Homo sapiens: one gene and its partners. The protein of the gene in region 1 purifies or fractionates together with the protein of each later gene. This does not show direct contact. Each region holds a gene or a part of one and is shown in the gene's direction. Other genes may lie near its edges. The genes, in order: FAM9C, STX5, EXOC1, STX6, KIF15, CEP170 and MINDY3.

Region 1 (3,252 bases):
ATTGTGTATTAAGTTATTTCTACCCTTTTGATGGTCTTATTAAATCAGATACTTTTTTGTGCTTTACATAATGAGTTGTGACAGTATTTCACGGAAACATGTCCTTTGAATTGTAGGACATTTTATAAATGTAGAAATTAAAGTCTGTGGCTGGGCACGGTTGCTCACACCTGTAATCCCAGCACTTTGGGAGGCCGAGGTGGGTGGATCACGAGGTCAGGAGATCAAGACCATCCTGGCTAACACGGTGAAACCCCGTCTCCACTAAAAATATAAAAATTAGCCGGGCGTGGTGGCGGGCGCCTGTAGTCCCAGCTACTCGGGAGGCTAAGGCAGGAGAATGGCGTGAACCCGGGAGGCGGAGGCTGCAGTGAGCCAAGATCGTGCCACAGCACTCCAGCCTGGGTGACAGAGCGAGACTCTGTCTCAAAAAAAAAAAAAAAGAAATTAAAGTCTGTGTTTGTAACCCTTTCTGCACACTTAAAAAATAGAAACTTTTAATTATTTGCTTTTTTTCATTATCTGTCAATTAAGTGATTTGCTGTTATACCAACTGAAATTGGAATACTAATACCTGAAAGGTTTTACATAAAGTAAGTAAATCTTGCTTTTTGAAATGATCTTTGCATTTTACATTTTAAATGTCCTTCTGATATTGCTGAACCATCAAGTCCCATATTGATTTTAATATATGCAAAGAAACTACTTTTCAACATGAACATTTAATGCATATTCATTTACTATCTAGCTGACATTAAAGAGCATCTTGCTGCAAAGAGAAAAAGGATTGAAAAGATTGCAAAAGCTTGCAGCGAAATAAAGAACAGAATTAAAAATGTTTTGAGAACAACACAACTAAAAAGGTATGATTGTTGGCTTTTTTGAATAATGATATTTATATCATTTCTTTGTATTCATTGGTGCAAATAATTTCCAGAACTATCCTGTACATATTGGTGTCTCTAGGGAACAACATATTTTACTTGATTGTTCCCTAAACAGGTAAGTTTCTTTAGTTTTATAACCTCAATTTAACAGAATTGAGAGATATTACCTAGAAGCCAATGAAGATGACCTCTTTTTGCCTTCCAGATAAAAAGTCTTCCTGTAAAATTAATGTTTATCCATTTCTAGAAATACGGTAGGTGAATATAAGATAAATGTCTTCAACGTTTAGTCTGTAGATTCTTAACAATATTCAATTATGTAGAAAGGGATAACCTTGTGTTGTAAATAAGTTATTTATTTTAGTTAAATTGTTTTCACTATTCCTTTTAGATCATTGTCGTGCCAAAGTGGAGAAATAGTTAAGTGAAGTATTTCTTTCGGGAAATCTTACGGGATGAATGGCTATGATATTCTTGCACCTCCTTATGAGAACGCATATGTTATTTAGTAAGAAGAAATGAAAAGTAAACTGCTCTTGGAGAAAAAGATTGTTTCTGGGAAATTTATAGTGCAGTAAACCCTCCTTTGTCTTCAGCAGGTAAAGAATGTAAGATAGCTGCTCTAGTAGTCAGTTAGGAAGGGATCCTTTCAGAATGACAGTAACTCATTTCACCTTTTCCCAAAAAGAAGATTTCAGCTGCTATTACTCCCTTGCTACTTTATAGTACAAACTATGTCAAGTCAGTTTTGGTTTGAATAGGATTAATTTTTCATCCCTCTATGACGTATGACCTTGTTACTTATTATGTGTTACAGGCAGAAACGTGATTATAGAATTTCTCTGAAGTTGCCGAATGTCCTTGAAGAGTTCATCACAGATGAGCAGAAAGATGAGGAAGGAGATGGAGAAAAGGAAGAACAAATTGTTGGTATCAGGCTTAGCTTTATGATTAACCTATTGTATCAATGTCTCAGGTAGTAATAGTTCATGCAGAAATCCAGCAAAGAAGGAAGAGAGCATGAGCCCAGAGAGGGTCGCCCATTAGTGGACTCATGGACTAGGGGAATATAATTGCCATGCAGCATTAGGGGTCCAACTGAAGTCAGCATCATAGCGATGAAGAAGTTAAAGTGAACTCAGTTGGCATATTTGTGCAAGAGCAGCTGTAGGGTTGGAATTTCCTGGGTTGGGGTGTAGCCGAGCATGTTGATAGAGGGAGAGTTGGACAGGGCATAGAGGCAGGGATGGGGTTATGATGACTGGCTGTGGAATTTCAGCTGGGGCTGAGTTACCTGAGCACATGGGGGTGGGGCATTGGGCAGTGAAAAGTGCTCCATTCAATAGGCGTCAGGTCCCTACAGACTCCTGAGCTGTAGTACTGAAGTGAGTGACCTACAGTGGCAGGAAGGTAGTGGCTGTATGTTGGGAAGATGGAGAAACAGATGAGTGCAGTGGTCAAGGGCTGCGACTCTGGAGCCCCACTGCTTGGGATCCAATTCCAGTTTGACCATTGCTAGTTCAGGAACCATGGGCATATTATTTATCTCTGTGCTAAAGTTACTTTATATACGAAAGGAGACATGGTGAGGGTACCTATTTCAGAGTTGTTTGGAGGATTAAAGGGTTCCTGTGTAACAGGTTTATTTAAATTTTTCAGGATGCGATCTGACCCATGGTTGCTGTTTATCATTGCTATTATTAATATTATGTAGATACTGCAGTCACTGGGAATGACAAAATTTAGGGGATGACTGTGAGTGCCACGTAGAGGAGAGGAGAACACTATTGTTGGAGATTAGGTCAAGGTGCAGAAAGGCAATCATTAATGGAAGGTTTATCTATGTACATATTGAAATGACCAAGATTTAACAGGTGTTTAAAATCTTAGTAAGAAAGAATGTTTCTTAGTTAATTTCTGTATAGATCTTACCTATCTGTGGTCAACAAATTATAGGAAGGGTCATCAAATACTCTTCATTTGAAATCAAGAATTAAGACGTATGTGTTGAATATGTATAAGAAAGAAAATTCTTTACTCCATGACTGATGAAAAAGGTTATTGTTTTAGCACATGAGTGGTGAACACAATTGTTTCAAATTGGTCATAAACGTTGTCTAAAAGAAAGTGTTCAGAAGTATTGATTTAAAGAGTATTTCTTTAATGCAGAATGTTTTATAAGTATTAAAATTTACCCAATTTTAATCACTTTTTTGTTTTGTGCCTCTAGAAAATATTTCAAGAGCAACAAAAGAGGTGGCAACAAGATGGGAAAGGAACTGAAAGAGATTGAGCCACCACACGAGCAATTCACAAAGGTCTGTTCTATTTGGTAACACAATACGTTCTTATAAAATACAACACA
Region 2 (3,500 bases), on another chromosome or scaffold:
CTCTTTTACCAGGACATCAATAGCCTCAACAAACAAATTGCTCAGCTCCAGGATTTCGTGAGAGCCAAGGGCAGCCAGAGTGGCCGGCACCTGCAGACCCACTCCAACACCATTGTGGTCTCCTTGCAGGTGGGACCTGGGGAGGAAGGGAGGGAGGCAAAGAGGAAGAATGTGGAGCCTTCTTTGGTTGACCCTCTCTCCTTTTCTTCTAGTCGAAACTGGCTTCTATGTCCAATGACTTCAAATCGGTTTTAGAAGTGAGGACAGAGGTGAGAACAATCTGCGTAGGAGGGGTAGGAATATGGGAGTAAAGATCCAAGAGGGAAATGAAGAAGGGACAAGTTCTACAGGGTCATGGGGCCAATGGTGGGAGTCTCTTTAACATGCCTGCTTTCTAGTGGCTTCAGGTCCTTTGCGTTTTTCCCCAACCCCAGAACCTGAAGCAGCAGAGGAGCCGGAGAGAGCAGTTCTCCCGGGCACCTGTGTCAGCCCTGCCCCTTGCCCCTAACCACCTGGGTAAGTCACAGGTAAAACGGGGAGCCCTGGGAGGTAAGGTTACTTACTCTGGTTGTGATGGCATCCTCTAAAGGCACGGGTTGGGTAGGAGAGTGGAAGGTCAAGGAATTTTCTAGGCTTTATCTCTCAGAGGCCAAACCAGATGGTTGAGATTCGTGATCCACATTTAGACTCCCACATTCTCACTGTTGGGGTGAATTCAGTTATATTCAGAATAATGATAATTTCTAATTTTTTTTCGTACACTTTATTCACATTCTCTCATTTAATTTTCACAACCACCCTTTGAGAAAGCAACTATTATTATCCCCCATTTTACAGGTGAGGAAACTGAGGCTCAGAGAGGTTAAATGACCTGTCCAGGGTCACAAGGCTAGTAAGTGCTAGAGCTGGGATTCAAACCCAGAGCATGTGGGCTTTGAACCTGCTTTTAACTGTTAAGGTGTGCCACATCCTGTTTTCTCCCCCAGGCGGTGGTGCTGTGGTTCTGGGGGCAGAGTCCCATGCCTCCAAGGATGTCGCCATCGACATGATGGACTCTCGGACCAGCCAGCAGCTGCAGCTCATTGACGAGCAGGTACCCAGGCTCTGAACTAGGTAGAATCAGCTTCTCCATTATCCTCTGTGGTTCCCGAGAGAGTGTTTGGAGTGTGCCATGGGCAGAATGGCAAGCTGGGAGGGTTGTAAAAATGCAGGTCTGACCCTGAAGAAGCTGTTGGTGCTCATGTGCTCTCTCCCTCTCCTGAAGGATTCCTACATCCAGAGTCGGGCAGACACCATGCAGAACATTGAGTCGACAATTGTTGAGTTGGGCTCCATCTTTCAGCAGTTGGCACACATGGTTAAGGAACAGGAGGAAACCATTCAGAGGTGAGATACACTCTCTCGCCCCAAACAGAGGAGCTTTCTCTTCCCCGTGGATTGGCATCTTAAAGTCCCCAGGGACTGCTTGATGCCTTTTGGAAGATAGAGTGAATTCTGCCCACCCATGGGACCCAGTTCACCTGCTTCCATCCACCCAACAAGTTTTTATTGAGCACCTGTTCATGTGAGGCACTGTTCCAGGTGCGGGAGATACAGTGGCAAGTAGAACAGTAAAGTCTGTCTGGAGCTGCTTTGTAGCATGTGTAAGTGTATGGAATTTGATAGGGCAGATGAGGACAGCTGTGGAAAAGAACTGACAAGGCTGGCACAGTGACTCACACCTGTAATCCCATAGGCAGCACTTTGGGAGGCCGAGCAATGCAGATCGCTTGAGTTCAGGAATTCAAGACCAGTTTGGGCAACAAAGCAAGACCCTGTCTCTACAAAAAAATACAAAAACTAGCTGGGCATGGTGGCATGGGCCTGTAGTCCCAGCTACTCGAGAGGCTGAGGTGGGAGGATGGCTTGAGCCTGGGAGGCAGAGGTTGCAGTGAGCCAAGATCGTGCCACTGCACTCCAGCCTGGGTGACAGAGCCAGATTCTGTGTCAAAAAAATAAAAATAAAAAATTGACCAACAAAATTTCAGGGAGTAATAAAGGCTGTATACAGAGTTAAAATAGGATGATGTGTTAAGAAAGTAATGGATGGGTACGGTGGCTTACACCTGTAATTCCAGCACTTTGGGAGGCCCACACAGTCAGTTGAACTCAGGAGTTCAAGACCAGCCTGGGCAACATGGTGAAACCCCATCTCTACAAAAATAAAAAAATTAGCTGGACATGGTTGCGTGTGCCTGTGGTTCCAGCTACTCGGGAGGCTGAGGCGGGAGGATGACTTAAGCATGGGAGGTTGAGGCTGCAGTGAGCCATGATGGAACCACTGCGCTCCAGTCTGAGTGACAGAGCAAGACCCCATCTCAAAAAAAAAAAAGAAAGTGACTAAGTAGGTATATCAGATTGTGTGGTAGGGAATGCTGCTCTGAAGACATGACATTTAAGCAGAGACTTGAATGACAAGAGGGATCCAACCAGGCAAAGAACAGAGAGTGTTCTAGGCCGAGGAGACAGCTAGAGCAAAGCCTTGTGATGGGACAGTCTCACCATAGCAAGAATCAAGAAGGCCTGCGTGGCTAGAAAGTAATGAACAGGGATAGAGAAGTACAGGGTGTACTGGAGGGATGTAGGCAGAGGCCCAACAATGGGCTGGCCTCTCTGTTCCTCTGGTGCCTCCTGCTACTACAAGAGTTTTTATCTGCTCCTCCTCTGTGGTGCTTAGCATTCAGTCAGTCAGTTATGGGAATATAGCAGTGGACAAAAGAGACAAAATCCTTGCCCTTGTGGAACGTGTATCCTAATAGGGAGATAGATGTGAAAAAGTCATAATAAATAGTATGTTAAAAAAAAAAAAGGTCGTAAATGCCAAAAAAAAAAAAAAAGATAGTCAACACAGGATAAACTAATCAGGAGTGCCAGGTTTGGAGGGAGGTAGGCCCTATTAAGAAGGTGGCATCACACTTGGGAGAAGGTGAGGAAATTAGCTACATAGACCCTGGCAAAGGCCCGCAGGTGACAATATGTTTGATGAGTTAAAGGACAGCAGAGACTACTGCAGCTGGGATCAATGAGGAAGAGAGTTGTACAAGGTGTGGTCAGAGGGGAACTGTGAGACCTCTTGGGACCATTGGTAGGCTTTAGCTTTTACTCTGAGTGACATAGGGAGCCATTGCAGGGGTTAGTTTTTCTGTGTTTGAGACAGAGCCTTGCTGTGTCGCCCAGGCTGGAGTGCAGTGGCATGATCTTGGCTCACTGCAACCTCCACCTCCTAGGTTCAAGTGATTCTCATGCCTCAGTCTCCCGAGTACCTGGGACCACAGGTGTGCACCGCCATGCCCGGCTACTTTTTGTATTTTTAGTAGAGACAGAGTTTTGCCACATTGGCCAGGCTGGTCTTGGACTCCTGGCCTCCAGTAACCTGTCCACCTTGGCCTCCCAAAGTGCCGGGATTACAGGTGTGAGCCATCACAACTGGCCAAATACATTTAACTTTATTTATTTATGCA
Region 3 (3,500 bases), on another chromosome or scaffold:
ATTACAAGCCTAAATATTCTCTAAATTAGTGGGGGGAGGAATGTCTGAGTTTACTTTGCAAAGAACATTATTTAAAAGGCTAGTTTAACATTTTAGTAGTCATCAAGATAAATATAATGTTTTAAAATGATGTTAGAGTGTATACACTTTGGTATACCAAATAACAATAATGATAAATAAAAGAAAATGAGGCCTCAGATTTGCCTTCCTTGTGGCTTTGTTACTAACTAGCCATGAGATCTTAAGCCAGTTATTCGATCCCCAGCTTTCCTCTTCTGTAAAGTAGATATCATAGTGCCTATTCAGCATGCCTTTCTGGTAGCATACATATAAGAGAATAAGATGAGAGAGTTTCTTGAGTATTTTGAAGAACTTAAAAACAGTGCAAATAAAGTGTTTTTTAAATTATCATCTCAAAATTGTATGCCACAGACAACCAACTTATAAAAGCAGTCATAAAATAAATGAGAAATGGATTATGATAAATGGTTTAGAGTGTTCATTGTTATGGTAGTAATGGTGGCAAATTTGTTTATTTGTTGGCCTCTGTAAGAATTTTTTATAGCATTTTTTTAATGCTGAAGTTCTATTAGAATAATTGATGAGATTTCCTTAATTTTTTAAATTCTCTTTTGAAAGTTGTGTTTGGACGTTTTCTATTTTTGTGGTGGTTGTTGTCAAGCTGCCCCCACTCCCACACCTTGCGTTCAGCTTCCTGTACCTCCCTACTTCCCCTCAGGTGCACACACAAATACAACTTCTCACCCCACAAAAGTTCTTGGATAAAACCTAAGAAGAGTATCTCATGAACATTCTTAAATAGCATACTAAATTATATAGCTAGCTTTATCATAATGCTACCTTTAAAAATATTTTTCATAATGTATTCTTTCCTAGGAATTTTAAGACTGAGCAGGCTTTTGCTATATCAATACTAGTCAAATTGTTGGTCTTTTATTATGTAAAGTGCCTGAATAATTTTTGCAGGCTGAAGCAGAGGACCTGGATGGAGGAACATTATCACGGCAACATAATTGTGGCACACCACTGCCTGTTTCATCTGAGTATGTCTTTGTTACTATCATTGTTTATTTTGGAAAAAATAAACTTTAAAATGTGGAGTGCTGCTCATTGAGGGGTCTAGATGTTTCTCAGTAGCCTGACAGCACTCACAGTACCAGCATGTGTGTCCATTGTCTTATCAAACGTTTTACTGATTTAAAATAGGGCCTATTTTATGGCTCTTCAACTCTTCCTTGCTCCAGGACTTACAGAAGATGAAGTCAGTCTGTTGTTTGCTGGTAGGGGGAAGCCTTTGAATTGTAGTGTATTTCTTAGAAATCACAAAGCACATTTCATGACCCAGCTTTACAAATTAAAACTAATTCAAATGATAAAACCCAACATCAGTAAAATATTTTTATATCAAAAACTACTATAATCATATTTAGACATTTTTATTTGTTTTTTGTTGTTGTTGTTTTCTGAGATGGAGTCTCCCTCTGCTGCCCAGGCTGGAATGCAATGGCGCCATCTCAGCTCACTGCAACTGCACTTCACCTCCCGGGTTCAAGCGATTCTCCTGACTCAGCCTCCCAAGTAGCTGGGATTACAGACATGCACCACCACGTCTGGCTAATTTTTGTACTTTTGGTAGAGACAGGGTTTTACCATGTTGGCCAAGCTGGTCTTGAACTCCTGACCTCAGGTGACCTGCACACCTTGGCCTCTCAAAGTGCTGGGATTACAGGCGTGAGCCACCACGCCTGGCTATTTAGACATTTTTAATTGAAATTTAATTATGGTATTTTTGTCCTTTTGTATATACCCAGTGGATTAAAGTTAACGGTGAATTCACCTGAAGCTTGTTATAACTTTATACTTCTTGTCTGTTTTCTGAACAGGAAAGATATGATCCGCCAAATGATGATTAAAATATTTCGCTGCATTGAGCCAGAGCTGAACAACCTAATTGCATTAGGAGACAAAATTGATAGCTTTAACTCTCTTTATATGTTAGTCAAAATGAGTCATCATGTGTGGACTGCACAAAATGTGGACCCTGCTTCTTTCCTAAGTACTACATTGGGAAATGTTTTGGTGACTGTCAAAAGGAACTTTGACAAATGCATTGTAAGTTTTCTTTTTTAAAAAAATACCTTAGCATCCTAGTCATTGCAAAATATAGGTAAATGTATTTAAAATCGAGGGATTTCCAGCTTTCTGTTGGGGAATCTGTTGTTTATGTCCCTCGAAGCAGGGCATGGCAACAATCTACATGAACAGAGTTAGTTGGGTGGCACTATGCCAGCTAGTTTCCATTCCACACTGTGAATCTTGGCAAGTTCTGGAGGAAGTGGCACAGTGGCACCAGTTGCTTAAGAGATCCACTGGAGGCCAGACGCAGTGACTCACACCTGTAATGCCAGCACTTTTTAAGGCCGAGGTGGGCAGATCACCTGAGGTCAGGAGTTCGAGACCAGCCTGGAGAACATGGCGAAACCCCATCTCTACCAAAAATACAAAAATTAGCCGGGCGTGGTAGCACATGCCTATAATTCCAACTACTCGGGAGGCTGAGGCAGGAGAATTGCTTGAACCTGTGAAGTGGAGGTTGCAGTGAGCCAAGATTGCACCAGTGCTCTCCAGCCTGGGTGACAAGAGTGAAGACTGTGTCAAAAAAAAAAAAAAAAAAATCTACCGAATCACTGACATCTCAGTTTATTAGTCAATGACCATTGATTTAATGAAACAATTGAAACAATCATTTGGGTTTATTGTTATTGTTCTTCTTTTAATACATTCTAGTAAGAAAACTAATTTGATTATTTTAATTATTTAATTTATTTTAATAGTTTAGTAGCTTTAATAATTGTATTTTATTTTAGGAATAAATTGTTATAACTGAGCAATTATCATTTTCCTCCTAATAGAAAAAAATTTGACAACTTTCTTACTATCTGTTACTTTTTTTTTTTTTTTTTTTTTTTTTGAGATGGAGTCTCGTTCTTGTTGCCCAGGCTGGAGTGCAACAGTGCAATCTCGGCTCACCGCAACCTCCGCCTCCTGGGTTCAAGTGATTCTCCTGCCTCAGCCTCCCGAGTAGCTGGGATTGCAGGCATGCGCCACCACGCCCTGCTAGTTTTGTATTTTTAGTAGAGATGGGGTTTCTCCATGTTGGTCATGCTGGTCTCAAACTCCCAACCTCAGGTGATCTGCCCACCTCAGCCTCCCAAAGTGCTGAGATTACAAGCAAGAGACACCGGCCATCTATCCATTACATTTTTTATACTTGTATGTATGAATTGGGCTAGGCCAGGTTAAAAAATGCTTCATGAACACTTCTCAAGGCATGGCACTAGAGAAGGTAATCTAGACAAAGATATAAATTCATATTTTCTCATAAGTTGCATATATATATATAAAGGACATAGGTTTGCCACTGAAGAGGAGGGTGGTTTCTTCTGCCTGTCATACTTCTGTATATCTTATTTCAATAA
Region 4 (3,500 bases), on another chromosome or scaffold:
ACCAGTCCGGGCAACATGATGAAACCCTGTCTCTACAAAAAAAAAATATAAAAATTAGCTGGGCATGGTGGTGCACACCTGTTGTCTCAACTACATGGAAGACCAAGATGGGAGGCTGAGGTGGGAGGATCAGGTTGAGGCTGAGAGCTATGATCACGTCACTGTACCTTAAAAAAAAAAAAAAATTTCCGTGATTGAAGAAAAAGAAATCTGTTTTTAATCTTTCTTTTTTTGACACAAGGTCTCACTGTGTTGACCAGGCTGAAATGTAGTGGCATGATCTTGGCTGACTACAACCTCTGCCTCCCAAATAGCTGGGACTACAGGCGTGCACCACCACACCAGGCTAATTTTTTGTAGAGACAGGGTTCACCATGTTGCTCAGGCTGGTCTTGAACTCCTGAACTCAAGTAGTTTGCCTGCCTCAGCCTCTCAAAGTACTGGGATTACTGGCGTGAGCCACCATGCCCAGCCTGTCAGGCTTATTTCCGAGAGCAAAAATGAGACAGTAATCTGCTGGCTTTGGGCAGGGTACATTCAAATGGTGTCATCCTGAATGATTAGACCCTTGTCCATACCTCTAGTTTCTTCAAGCTAGTTATCTTTCTCACTTTTTATTTCTTAGTGTACTCTATTTCTTGACGAACAAAACAATTGCTATTGTAGAAACCATTTGGTTTTTTGATTGATTGGTAATCACTTCGCATTGTTGAAGAGTGACTCTTAGTGGGTTTGGATAGCGGCCTCTTCCGCCATCTGAATTGCTTCTGGAACTCTTGCAACCCAAGATACTGACATTTCCATATGTAACTACTTGACAGCCGTTCCAGAGTTATCCAGAGCAAACAAGCATCTATCAGAGTGTAAAAAATTGATCCAAGTGAACAAATCTTTAGTTCTAAGTTATTTAGAATAATACCCATTATTAAAGAATCTGAGAAAAAATATTAAGTACAATCTTGTGTCATTAAAATGTTTCATATTTTGAAACTATATGGCTAAGCCATTTGATTAGCATAACTAGATGTAAGAGAACCAGCTGTCTTTAACATATGTACTAGAAAGCAGCTTCCTTGAATAAAAAGACTTGGGATCATACCAGTGCTAACATACGGCTTTTTAAGAGTCATCTTAGGCAGGAACCTTAGTTTGTGTTTGCCAAAGTCTTTATATCATGTGATTTCCTTTTGAAATTATTTCAAATGGTAGATTATCACTGAACTTTATATATTCTTGTTACTTGTTTTATTCATTAGTTGCCTTTCTATATACATATACGTAAATTGTTTATAGATAAACCCACATTTTAATGAGGGAGAAACCTTTCTGGACCTCAGATGCCCCATCCACAGTGAGTGTTTGGATTGGACATTCTTAATTTCTAGCCAGTTCAAAATACTGTTCTGATGAGGAAGCCTTGTTGTTAGGTGACATATTTTTTGTAAGATAAGTAAATCCCCAATTATTTTGTATAAGCTTTTTTTTTTTTTTTTTTGTAGTAGTAGGTTTTTTGAAGGATACTCCTATAGACGTTAATATTTAAGTGGGGCCTTGCAGTGAAGCATATGTCCTTAACCTTAATCATTATATTTATTTCTGCAAGGTAGACTTAGGAAGTTTGCAAATTGAAATTTAGAGGTTCGTATATTAAAAATTAAGTTCATTGGTATAATGGAAAGAAGAATCCAAAGTTCATTTTCTAATATCTGAAAAGCTTTTTAAAGTACATTCTTAGAAAGAGGTTGATATGATTTAGCTGTTTCCCCACCCAAAATCTCATCTTGAATTGTAATCCCCATAATCCCCATGTGTCAAAGGAGAGACCAGGTGGAGGTAATTGAATCATGGGGGCAGTTTCCCACATGCTGTTCTCATGATAGTGAGTGAGTCTCATGATAGCTGATGGTTTTATAAGGGGCTCTTCCCACTTTGCTCTGTCACTCTTCCCTGCTGCCTTGTGAAGAAGTTGCCTTGCTTCTCCTTCTGCCATGATTGTAAGTTTCCTGAGGCTTCCCCAGCCATGCTGAACTGTGAGTCAATTAAACCTCTTTCTCTTATAAATTACCCAGTCTCGGGCAGTTCTTTATAGCAATGTGAGAACAGAGTAATGAGAGGTATTCCAAATCAAGTCAGTACTTCAAAATCTTACTGTCCTTTTAGAGTTGAGATCTAAACCATACTCAACTATGTGATCCACCTGAATATTTTAGGGTTTTAAATCATTCTTGTTTAAATTTATGACCCCTTTGGGGGAAGCTGTTAGTATTTACCAGTGGTAGGCTAACAGTACCTAACTGAGCTTTTGCTGATCTGATTGTAATAAATTCTAGTTGAAAGTCCTATAGAAGAGGAGGAAATAGCAATGGTGCTAACTCGATTAAAAATAAAATATACCTTGTATAATTCCACATTACCACATTTAGCTAAACAGTGTTTGTATGTAGAGATTTCTGGGTTCTGGGTGGAAGAGCTCGATAGAGAGGGAGCAGAGGGTTAGCAGATTTGGAAAATGAGATGAAATGAAGTTCAAATTAGGAATTTGTACAAATTTATGTTAGTTCTTCTGTTACTATTACTAGTGGGCTTTCATTTAATATTGCTCCAAAATTTTGATTGACTTTATCTTTCAAACAGTGTATTCTACTTATGCTTTCTCTTTTGTAGGCAGGGGAGTCAGTGATACTCTATGCATTTTGTGGTTTTTTTTTTCTTTATTTGCTTCAACCTGAAGAAGTAAATCGCCTGTTTCTTCTTGATTAATGTCCATTGGTTATGCCTTTAGTAAGCTTTCCTTGTTTAGAGTTTTGTGTATGTTTTTCCAAGCATCTTTTAAGTCTGTACAAATCCAGTTTTGCTGGCAGTTTTTAGTGAAGAACCAAAATACTCACATTTTTGTGTAAATAGCTTTCATATTTTTGAGGTAATCATTTTTACTCTTGTGGAGTCACCTATACATCAAAGATTCCACATGTGAAATTTTTGTGTTTTAGAAATATATCCTAGAAGTGACTTTGGTTTTACTTTAGGATCAAGAGGTTTTGCAGTATATGGCAGAATAATGGTGAATATAAGGGGTAAGGGAACCTGAGTTCTAGGCTAAGCTGTGACCTTAATAAATCTTAACCATGGTAAGTCATTCAACCTCCCTGGATCTCAGTTTTATCTATGAAATAATCCTCACTAACATTCTCTGACTTTAAAAGTTAGAACTATTACCCTCTCCATGAAAAAACCGAACCTGCTCCAATGTAAGAATTGTTTACAGTCAATTGTAAGTCAAGATGGAAATGGCTTTGGTTAATCAAAAAGGGTGAAGTATCCAGTGTGAGCACAGATGACCTTGAAATGTAAGAATTATGAGTGGGAAGCACTGGGGTTTATGATGTCTCATTCATTCAGCTTGGAAGACAGTGTGAAATGGGAACAGAAGCATAAATAACCAGGACATTTGTTGTTCCTTTGGCAGATGAACCATATTTTATTGGGACTTGTTGCTTGAC
Region 5 (2,481 bases), on another chromosome or scaffold:
AATCGATGGGGCTTTTCCTCATGGACAATGAGAACAATGTAACTACCAGGTGTCCCTTTTCACTTCTGCTTCTGGTTTCCTCTGATTTAAAACCTGAGGCCCTCTGAGACCCAAAGATCAGTACTCTGATTTCTTCTGGTCTAGCCCTTGGGTCTCTTTATGTTTTCTAAAGCCATGAGTTTAATTTATTCATAAAGTTTTCATATTAATTCATGTAGCCTTATAAATGGCCTCACTCTTTGATGAGCAAGGTGTACTATATTTTCTGTAAAATTCAAACTAAGTAAGCTGGTTGGCATTAACACAAACAAAACAACATTAGAGAGCTATTGGGCTTTTTCTGGGTAGATACTCCTTATTAGGGATAGAGATCTTCAAACATTTTTGCTTATTATACTGATTTAAAGGATTTTGAAACATCATATACCCTCTTGCATATTTTTGAAGTTGACTTTATATCTAAAATTTTTCATTGTAAGTTTAAATTGTTACAAAGAATAGACATTCTGGGATATACAATATAGTGACATTTGAAAATAAAGCTGTTGGCTGGGCCCAGTAGCTCACGCCTGTAATCCCAGCACTTTGGGAGGCCGAGGCAGGTGGATTGCTTGAGTTTAGGAGTTTGAGATCAGTCTGGGCAACATGGTGAAACCCTGTCTCTATTTCTAAAATTTTTTTTAAATAAATTTTTTTAAAAAGAGAAAAGAAAATAAAGCTCTTGCCATTCTTTTAAAAGTATTTAACTAATTTGCTACTTTCTGTTTAAGAAATACATGAACAAATTTCCAAGTCTAAAATTTTACATTTTTCCTTTTTCCTTTGTAATTGAAGTTCCTTTCTACACCCTGCAGGATTTTATATTGATTTAATATATTTTCTGGAAAATTTTTTTATTGATAACCCCATCATACTACTTAACAATAAAATATATGTATGTACATACATACACACACACAAATTGAAAGTAATTTGTAAAAATTTATTTTAATCATATGGCTTTGTTATGTTTATTACCAATTGAGTTCACATTACAATTATTAATCAGTGTGCCTTAAATTTACTGGAAATTTTTATAAGTAATTATTATACTTAGGGAAAATTTTAGTGGAAATGCATCTCTTAATGTATTTTAACCTAATGCTTTTTCTTCAGTCAGCTCATTTTTCTGTTGTACTTCTCAAATGAGACAGGATTCAGCATCAACTCTATTCGTATTTTCTGCTTTTATAGATATAAATGCTGAGAAATCTTGTTCACATAGTTAAGTAAATGGCAATGAAGGAGTTTTGATAGGGTACTGTATTCCAGTTATTTGAACTTTATGCAAGTAAATATGTCAAAAATTACATGGTGATTTACCATCAAAAATTCTTTTTAATGATCAGCTGACAAAGACCACCCAATTTATGAAAGATTTGTTACCCAATCATTGATTCATTTGCTTCATAGAATCAGAGTATACATAGGAAAACAGCCTTTTCACCTGTGTATGAGCCATTCAGAGTCCGGCTCCTAGCTAATTAGTGGTAAAGCTAAGTCAGAAACCCAGATTATTTACAGGATTTTTGAGAATCCAGCTAGTTGGTTGAATTACAGCTATTTTAGAACTAATATCTATTTGAGGTCTTCTAGCAAAAAGAGTAAAAGCTATTTAACTTGGTGTATAGTTTATTTCATAGTCTAGTAACCAAGAGTCTTCATGATATGCTGTCTCTGGAACATACAGCAGGCCAAACTTCACTGCGGGCAAGTGAAGCACACTTCAGCAAACGGCATGCACTGTTTTATCAATCCCAGCCTACAACAGCAATTTTAAACGTTACGTTACCCATATATTTGTGAAGATGCTTTTAAAAGTAATGGGGAACCAATACAAAGCCAACAATGAATTGGGAGAGCATCAGTGCCCTTCTCCCCAGACTGTCCTTCTGAGATCCACAGAATGTAGTCCAAAAACAACTTGCCTAGAAATTAGCTGGCCCTTTGTGTATTAAATTTTATGTATTATATCATCTTAGCAATCAACCGCTAGAAATTAGCTGGCTTTGAGTGGTGTATTAAATTTTGTGTATTATATCATTTCAGTAATCAACAGCTAGAAATTAGCTGGCCTTGAATGGTGTAATAATACATCATTTCAACAGTCAACATTACATTTCATGAGCATTATAAAATAAAAAGCAGGCCTGGCACAGTGGTTCACACCTGTAGTCCCAGGATTTTGGGAGACCAAGGAGAAGAGGATTGCTTGAGGCCATGAGTTTGAGACCAGCCTGGGCAACATAGCAAGACTCCATCTCTACGGATAATTTTTAAAACATTAGCCAAGCACAGTGGTGCATGCTGGTAGTCCTAGATACTCCAAAGGCTGGAGCAGGAAGATTGCTTGAGCCTAGGAGTTGGAGGCTGCAGTGAGCTATGATGGTGCCAGCGTACTCTAGCCTGGGCAGCAGAGTGAGACCCTGTCCCTAAAGGGGG
Region 6 (3,500 bases), on another chromosome or scaffold:
TGCCTGACTCCTGAGTCCACGCTCTTAACCATAAGAAGTTTTAATATTTCAGCCATCATTACTCTTGTAAACACAATCACTCTAAAAGGATATACTTCATAGGGTACAAAGATTTAAACAAATACTCCAAAATCAAATAGCCATAAAAATTGATCCCTCCTAGCTCAGCATAATAAAATAAATTTCAAATGTGAAGCATCCAGCAATACTTTCATCTATATGAATGTAACTGAATTCTCAGCTTGTGTACTCTTTCTGCTAGATGACCAAAAGCCGTCTCATGATCTTGGGGTTCTTTTTGAGTAATAATTCAGTGATTTATGTCTTGTGTCAAATTCCTTAAAGTGCCCTGTCAGATACAGCTGATTAGTAATAGCCTTAAGAGACTCTCACTTGCTTTCTTATGTTAGTATGAGGATATTACTGTTTCAGATTTATCATTTGCAGCTTTTTAAAATATAGGATGAGGAAAATAGTTTACTGTCTTGTAATAATTTATGAAGCCAGCAGAAATTGTAGAATCAGATTTGAAATGTATATCAAGTGTTCTTTAATGTGGTCATTTTGAAATTAAGGTATTTTTAAAAACTTAAACTTTTTTTTTAAGTTTCAAATTGTGGAATATACGTGATTAGTTTAATAATTTATCCTGTAGCATACTCTTAGTGAAAGCAAAAAGTGATTTGCTTCTTCGTTATTAATTTTTAGAGTTGCATTCCAGAAAGGATAATAGAGTGTTTGCTACCTAGTAATTTTTAACGTTCCTCTCTGTGGGTTCATATATATCCAGAAACTCCCGAAGACTTGCCATATAGCTTAAAAAGCCCTGGTTTAAGCAAATACTTACTTTAGAGCAATTTCGTTCTCCAGAAATTGTGTGACTATTTTTAATCGTATTAAGACGTAAAGTTTGTCCTCAATTTATTTACAGCTATGCTTTTCTACCTCCTAACTTGGTCTCAACAATTAATTTAGGTTATAATTAAAGGCCTTTAACTGTTGCACACATTTTGAAATGGCATGTGCAACTGGGAATCATAGATTTTTGGCTCTCTCATGTTGATTTTTAATCCAGCGAAACTAAATTTGGAAATTTTCAAGTCGTAGCTCCTTTTAAGCAAAAGGAGCTTCCCAGTCTTCTTAATTTGACATGCTTGAACAGACTAGGTTAGATGGATGTCTTAAGCAGAATGAGCTGTTATAATTATAGTCCTTGTCATCTCAAATAAGTTTAATATTTCATTGAATTTAGTACAGAAGAATGAAAAGAACATTTATTCTGGATGAAGTATAAGTATCCCTTATAACATATTGTGTTAAGGTAACACAGTCATAAAATACCTTAAGAACATAAGCAGATTATCACCAATTGCTTTTCTGATTGAGATATATGGAATTAATTATGGCATAATCAATCATTAAATAATTTTTTAAAATCTAGTAATTGAGATTAATAATATAATATTAGTCTAAACAAGTATTTACTCTATTATTTAGTTTCATTTGGTATAACAAAATGAGTTTTGAAGATAGATGAATGTTAAATTTCTAAATTCCAGAATATGTTCTGTTAGTGTTCTGAGGGAGGAAAGGTGTTTTATTTTTCTGTGTTGATTAGAAGACCCCTTATAGTTTTCTATTAGGTACTTCTCAAGTGTAGTTGGACCACACTTCATCTGTTTTTATCATCTTTAGGGAAATGAATCCTTCCACATAATGAATTTTCCAGATGATTGAACTTTACTTTTACAGTTGATAGTTTTTTTGAAGTTTAACCATTTCCTAAGTTTCTATTAAATTAATTACCCATATTACCACCTTCTTAAGCAGAGAAGTTTCAGTATAATTTAAAACTTTTTCTTATGACTCAAAATCATCAATCATCAATATCAGTATTACTATTATATATATCAATAGCAATAGCAATATTGATATAATCAATAATCAAATATATTAGTAATATAATAATACTGATACTGCCTTACAGTAATGTCCTCAGGAGACTGTAGTATATAAGACTGTTTGCCCTATATACTGAATGGTACTGGACTATCATGTTTTTGGGGCCATTTGTCTGCTCTTGTTTTTCATCTTGTCTCTACCACTTGGTGCAATTTGTCTGTCCTTAATCCTCACTTTTGTACCCTGCCCAAGGTTTGCTACATGTGATCTGAGTAAATAGTAAAAACCTCTCGGTGAAGATCTTAACTGTTAGTAATGTTTATGAATATTCAAGGATAGGCATTGTCATATCTGTCTTGGGTTTTTTAGAGTTGGGTTTTGGTATTAGCTTTTTGTCTTCCTGATTCTCAGCTGTTTTTGAAGGTGGAGGGAGAAGCATTTATTTGTGTACCTGCTTTGTTCTGGGTAACTTACATGATCTCACTTAATACTCATCTCACTAAATCTTCACAACAATCTTATGGGAAGATACTGTTTTCTCACTTTATGATGAGGAAAATGAGGACTACAGACTGATTAGGGATAAGATTTATCTGATTTCAGATCTTGTCTGGGCTTTGCATGAAACCAGGCTGCCTGGTTATGATCATCAGATCATAGTCTGCTGCCTTTCCACTCTATTGTGCTACTTGACCTGGTTAGGTACTTGATTTCTAGATGAATTAGTTATTAACTTGTATAAGTCTCAAGTTTCTAGCTTTGAGTGAATGCGAGTTTGAAGTAGTACTAACATGGGAATGGTGACCTTCAAAACAGGTGACCTTGATAAGTGCTATATCCCTGGCCAGCTTTTTTGTGTTGCTTCATAGCTGAGCCACATCAGTTTTATTTAGCTCTCTGTATAGTGGATCAGTTTTATTTGGCTCTCTGTGTAGTGGTATTAGAAACTACCATCTTGACGTTGTTCTGTCACCTGAAGGATGAGCAAAGCAAAAACAAACTATATGTATATATCTATATGGGGGGAGGGAGAGAGGACAGGTTTATGAACCAGTTGTACTGTATGGACTTGATCAAGTACAGTACATTGTGCATAGTAAAAAAAAATCAATGTCTGAAAAAATAGAAAAATAACATTAATGAACTATTAATATATGAGAAGCAGTTAATACATTTTATTCTAATGGAAATTTTAACTAACATGACTTCAGAGTAAACACTCACAAGTCCAGCTGAACATTTTATTTTTAAGAAAAAGACAAATTAACTCTTTAATCAAACATTTTTTTAAACTTAGGTCATGTCATATAAATGTATGATTATTTCTCTGATAATGTAGAGTTTTTCCAATACTTTTCTTTCATGTTCAGTGATAGGAAAGCTGAGTAGATTTTAAAAGGGATAATTTTTCACAGTGAAAATTACAATATATTCTTTCATATTATATGTTCTCTTTGCCTTGTGTTTAGATTTTTTTGACAATTTATTATTATTATATTTATTGTGGAAATGGAGCTTGTTGTCTTCCGTGCCCTATCCCACACATTTGATTATGAAAGAGAGATGTTACTATATCATTCTTCTGTAACCTAAAAGCA
Region 7 (2,834 bases), on another chromosome or scaffold:
GACATGAGTACATGAAGTTCTTTGTGAAAAATAGGGCCGATTGTATTTAACTTAATAACTTGAATTATATTCTTTGTGTATAACTTTTCAGAGAAGGCAGTTTTGCTTTGGGGACTGAAAAGCCCGAGTTGTAGTTTCAATGTCAATTTATTTCATCAACACTAGAAACTAATATATTAACTAAAATAAAGATGCCAAAAAATGTATTTCACGTTACAATGTATCTTTAGCACTTTCTTAGGAATGAGTAGATTCATGACACAAGATTATCTGATCTAGTAATATATTCTATTCCTATATTTAATGTGTTTTAGAGGCAACTACCATTTAAGGATAATAAAGTTGTTTCTTTTGGCTCCTTAAATAGCTTATGGCTTTTATTTTGGAAGAACATAATTACACTCATGTGTATCAGCCAGTGAATGTGTAAAAATAATTTTATACACTTTGGAAGAAGACAGTCGTCTGTATCTGTTTCTTTTAAATTATACAGCATCAGAATTTCTCTTGGTACAAAAAAGAAATTAACCACCAAGGAGTGCCTTAATGTCCACAGTGAGCCCTTGGTAATGAGTTAGGGTTTTTGTTGATATGTCCAAAATACTTTTTAAGTATGTTTCATTGTAAATTAATCAGAATAAAATTTTTCTTGCTATTCACCTGCCAGTATATATTTCTGTGATCACTGCCACTGCATATACAGTATCTGGTTAGTTTGATCTTTCAACGTCTCTTTTACTTTTCTTTCTGTCCTGACATCCTTTTTAATTTTTTTCTCCATGATTTTTCATGCTGTACAGAATGCACTCATGAATTGCATTTCAGGAATATTTAATACCATAATAGCAAGTTTTGTTGACAAACATTCAAATTGGTTTCAGCTCTAGAAATTCAATACTTAAATTAGAAGGAGACACATGTTCCTCAGAACATAATAGCTATATTCCTTTTATAGCTCTCCGTTTCATTAGGCAGCATGAGCATCTGAGAACCTCAGTATTAAAGCAGTAGGACCTGTATAAATTATATGTAAATATGATAATTAAGCATTTCTTTCCGATGGTATAGATCCGTTGAAGAATGTTTTTTTTCTTAGAAACAATCTATGTGTTTTAGGATTCACATGATCTTGAATTTTTTAAAAATCACCTGGCCAGCTAGCAATTAAATATCGTTTACAAATTTACTTTCACATTAATCAGTAAGCAGATATTCCTTCTCATTTCTAGCAAAATAAAATTACATGTCAAGTTTCATCTGAAACTATGTAATACCTTATTTGCTAGCCTCTAAAAATTGTTTTCATTCCACATAAGAATTTGCTAAGACTGTTGCTTGACCTTGGTGGCTTTATTTTGTTCAACAGGTCATGTACGTAGAAGGGACTGCAGTTGTGATGGGTTTTGAAGATCCCATGCTACAGACAGATGACACTCCTATTAAACGCTGTCTGCAAACCAAATGGCCATACATTGAGTTACTCTGGACCACAGATCGCTCTCCTTCACTAAATTAATTTGTCTAAGTATTTATAAGGAAGATCTTAATAACAGATGTTGAAAGAAGGAGTCAAGACTGGCAATTGGCTGGATTAAGCTAAACACTGGTATCACTGATTAACTGTAAATAACAATTAAAAACACATTTTCAGTGTTTATGATATGTTTAAATTATTTGTCCTAAAGCTTTATGTTAAAGATTATCCTATTTTACCCCTTCGTGTGAAATTTACTAGCAAAATTAAGCTTTCATCAAAGTTCATCACTTTTGCATTCAGATACTTGGTCATTTACTTACCAAATTACAAACGCAATACTACAGCATTTGTATATTAAGTATCACAGTTACTATTGATAAACTACTTTTGGGTTTTATTTCATTGAGGCACTTTTTTTATTGTTTGAATGATTCCGGCTTGTAATATATCAGCCTCTACAATGAAATGCAGAAGAGTTCATTTTTCTAAGATCTGTTTTTCATTAGAAATATTGACAAATAACACATTGTCAACCTGGATCCTTTGACAATTTACTTAACTCTGGCATGTTCACAAAAAGTAGAAACTCTAAGAGACCATTACCATTTATTCACAGATGTATAGGGGATGTATTCTAAAAACTGACAGAAAAGAGAATCTGATAGTCAACACTGTTAACTTTTACTGTGTAATTGCCAAATACACTTTTCCAAATTTGTCCCAACAGCCCTGTAAGCCAGCTTTCTTCTATATTTATAAACACGATAAATGCATGAGAAGATCTGTTATTACATTAGTATATTACGTTATTTATTATGATCCTAGTTGATGGCCTAAATAAACACCTTTTTCTTTAACTGTACCCTTGCATTTTTTACATTGGTGGCTCAAAATAAACAAATACGTACTTCTAAATGTTTCTACCCAATAACCCTGAGAGCACAGAGTACTACAAATGGCTAAGTCATACAGGACCTCGAATAAGAGACCAGGCCTTATGCTAACCTAAGAGCTCTGCTAACTCAGCCAGCCAGAAGCATGAGAACCCACATGGCAGCTTTCTAGACCAGTGAGCAAAGATGCAGAAGCCCGTTTACTTGAGAGAGAGATCTGCTGTATTCTGATAGGTTTGTGGCCCAGCAATTTAAAATCACATAGCCATTAATACTTTTTTTCCTCCACGTGTAAAGCCACGTGTAAAGCAGATAATTATGTAGTATCCTCTTACACATTTCAGAACTGAACATTACCTTCAATAGTATAGTTCCTGTGTGAATTTCTGTTTGGGTTTTGTTTTCTTTCGTACACACACACAATTACAATATAATTAAGCATAGGGAAAGGCATGAGATTTTGT

What was found.
Region 2: the proteins of FAM9C (region 1) and STX5 purify together in Homo sapiens (affinity purification with mass spectrometry; one large-scale study listed by BioGRID and IntAct). This does not show direct contact.
Region 3: the proteins of FAM9C (region 1) and EXOC1 purify together in Homo sapiens (co-immunoprecipitation; 2 studies listed by BioGRID and IntAct, with this or other methods). This does not show direct contact.
Region 4: the proteins of FAM9C (region 1) and STX6 purify together in Homo sapiens (affinity purification with mass spectrometry; one large-scale study listed by BioGRID and IntAct). This does not show direct contact.
Region 5: the proteins of FAM9C (region 1) and KIF15 purify together in Homo sapiens (affinity purification with mass spectrometry; one large-scale study listed by BioGRID and IntAct). This does not show direct contact.
Region 6: the proteins of FAM9C (region 1) and CEP170 purify together in Homo sapiens (affinity purification with mass spectrometry; one large-scale study listed by BioGRID and IntAct). This does not show direct contact.
Region 7: the proteins of FAM9C (region 1) and MINDY3 purify together in Homo sapiens (affinity purification with mass spectrometry; one large-scale study listed by BioGRID and IntAct). This does not show direct contact.

What each region holds. Positions count from the first base shown.
Region 1 is NC_000023.11:13,038,369-13,041,620, reverse strand, and holds part of FAM9C (protein FAM9C), read left to right. Parts: intron 1-748; coding exon 749-863; intron 864-1,704; coding exon 1,705-1,813; intron 1,814-3,117; coding exon 3,118-3,180; 3' UTR 3,181-3,205; exon of another isoform or gene 3,206-3,252.
Region 2 is NC_000011.10:62,822,052-62,825,551, reverse strand, and holds part of STX5 (syntaxin-5), read left to right. Parts: intron 1-12; coding exon 13-129; intron 130-212; coding exon 213-269; intron 270-434; coding exon 435-516; intron 517-986; coding exon 987-1,093; intron 1,094-1,264; coding exon 1,265-1,386; intron 1,387-3,500. UniProt on the Homo sapiens protein: Mediates endoplasmic reticulum to Golgi transport.
Region 3 is NC_000004.12:55,891,648-55,895,147, forward strand, and holds part of EXOC1 (exocyst complex component 1), read left to right. Parts: intron 1-897; coding exon of another isoform or gene 898-906; exon of another isoform or gene 907-987; coding exon 988-1,064; exon of another isoform or gene 1,065-1,065; intron 1,066-1,904; coding exon 1,905-2,133; intron 2,134-3,500.
Region 4 is NC_000001.11:180,998,871-181,002,370, reverse strand, and holds part of STX6 (syntaxin-6), read left to right. Parts: intron 1-3,500. UniProt on the Homo sapiens protein: SNARE promoting movement of transport vesicles to target membranes. Targets endosomes to the trans-Golgi network, and may therefore function in retrograde trafficking.
Region 5 is NC_000003.12:44,848,794-44,851,274, forward strand, and holds part of KIF15 (kinesin-like protein KIF15), read left to right. Parts: intron 1-2,481. UniProt on the Homo sapiens protein: Plus-end directed kinesin-like motor enzyme involved in mitotic spindle assembly.
Region 6 is NC_000001.11:243,192,782-243,196,281, reverse strand, and holds part of CEP170 (centrosomal protein of 170 kDa), read left to right. Parts: intron 1-3,500.
Region 7 is NC_000010.11:15,777,674-15,780,507, reverse strand, and holds the end of MINDY3 (ubiquitin carboxyl-terminal hydrolase MINDY-3), read left to right. Parts: exon of another isoform or gene 1-659; intron 660-1,366; coding exon 1,367-1,516; 3' UTR 1,517-2,334; downstream 2,335-2,834. UniProt on the Homo sapiens protein: Hydrolase that can remove 'Lys-48'-linked conjugated ubiquitin from proteins.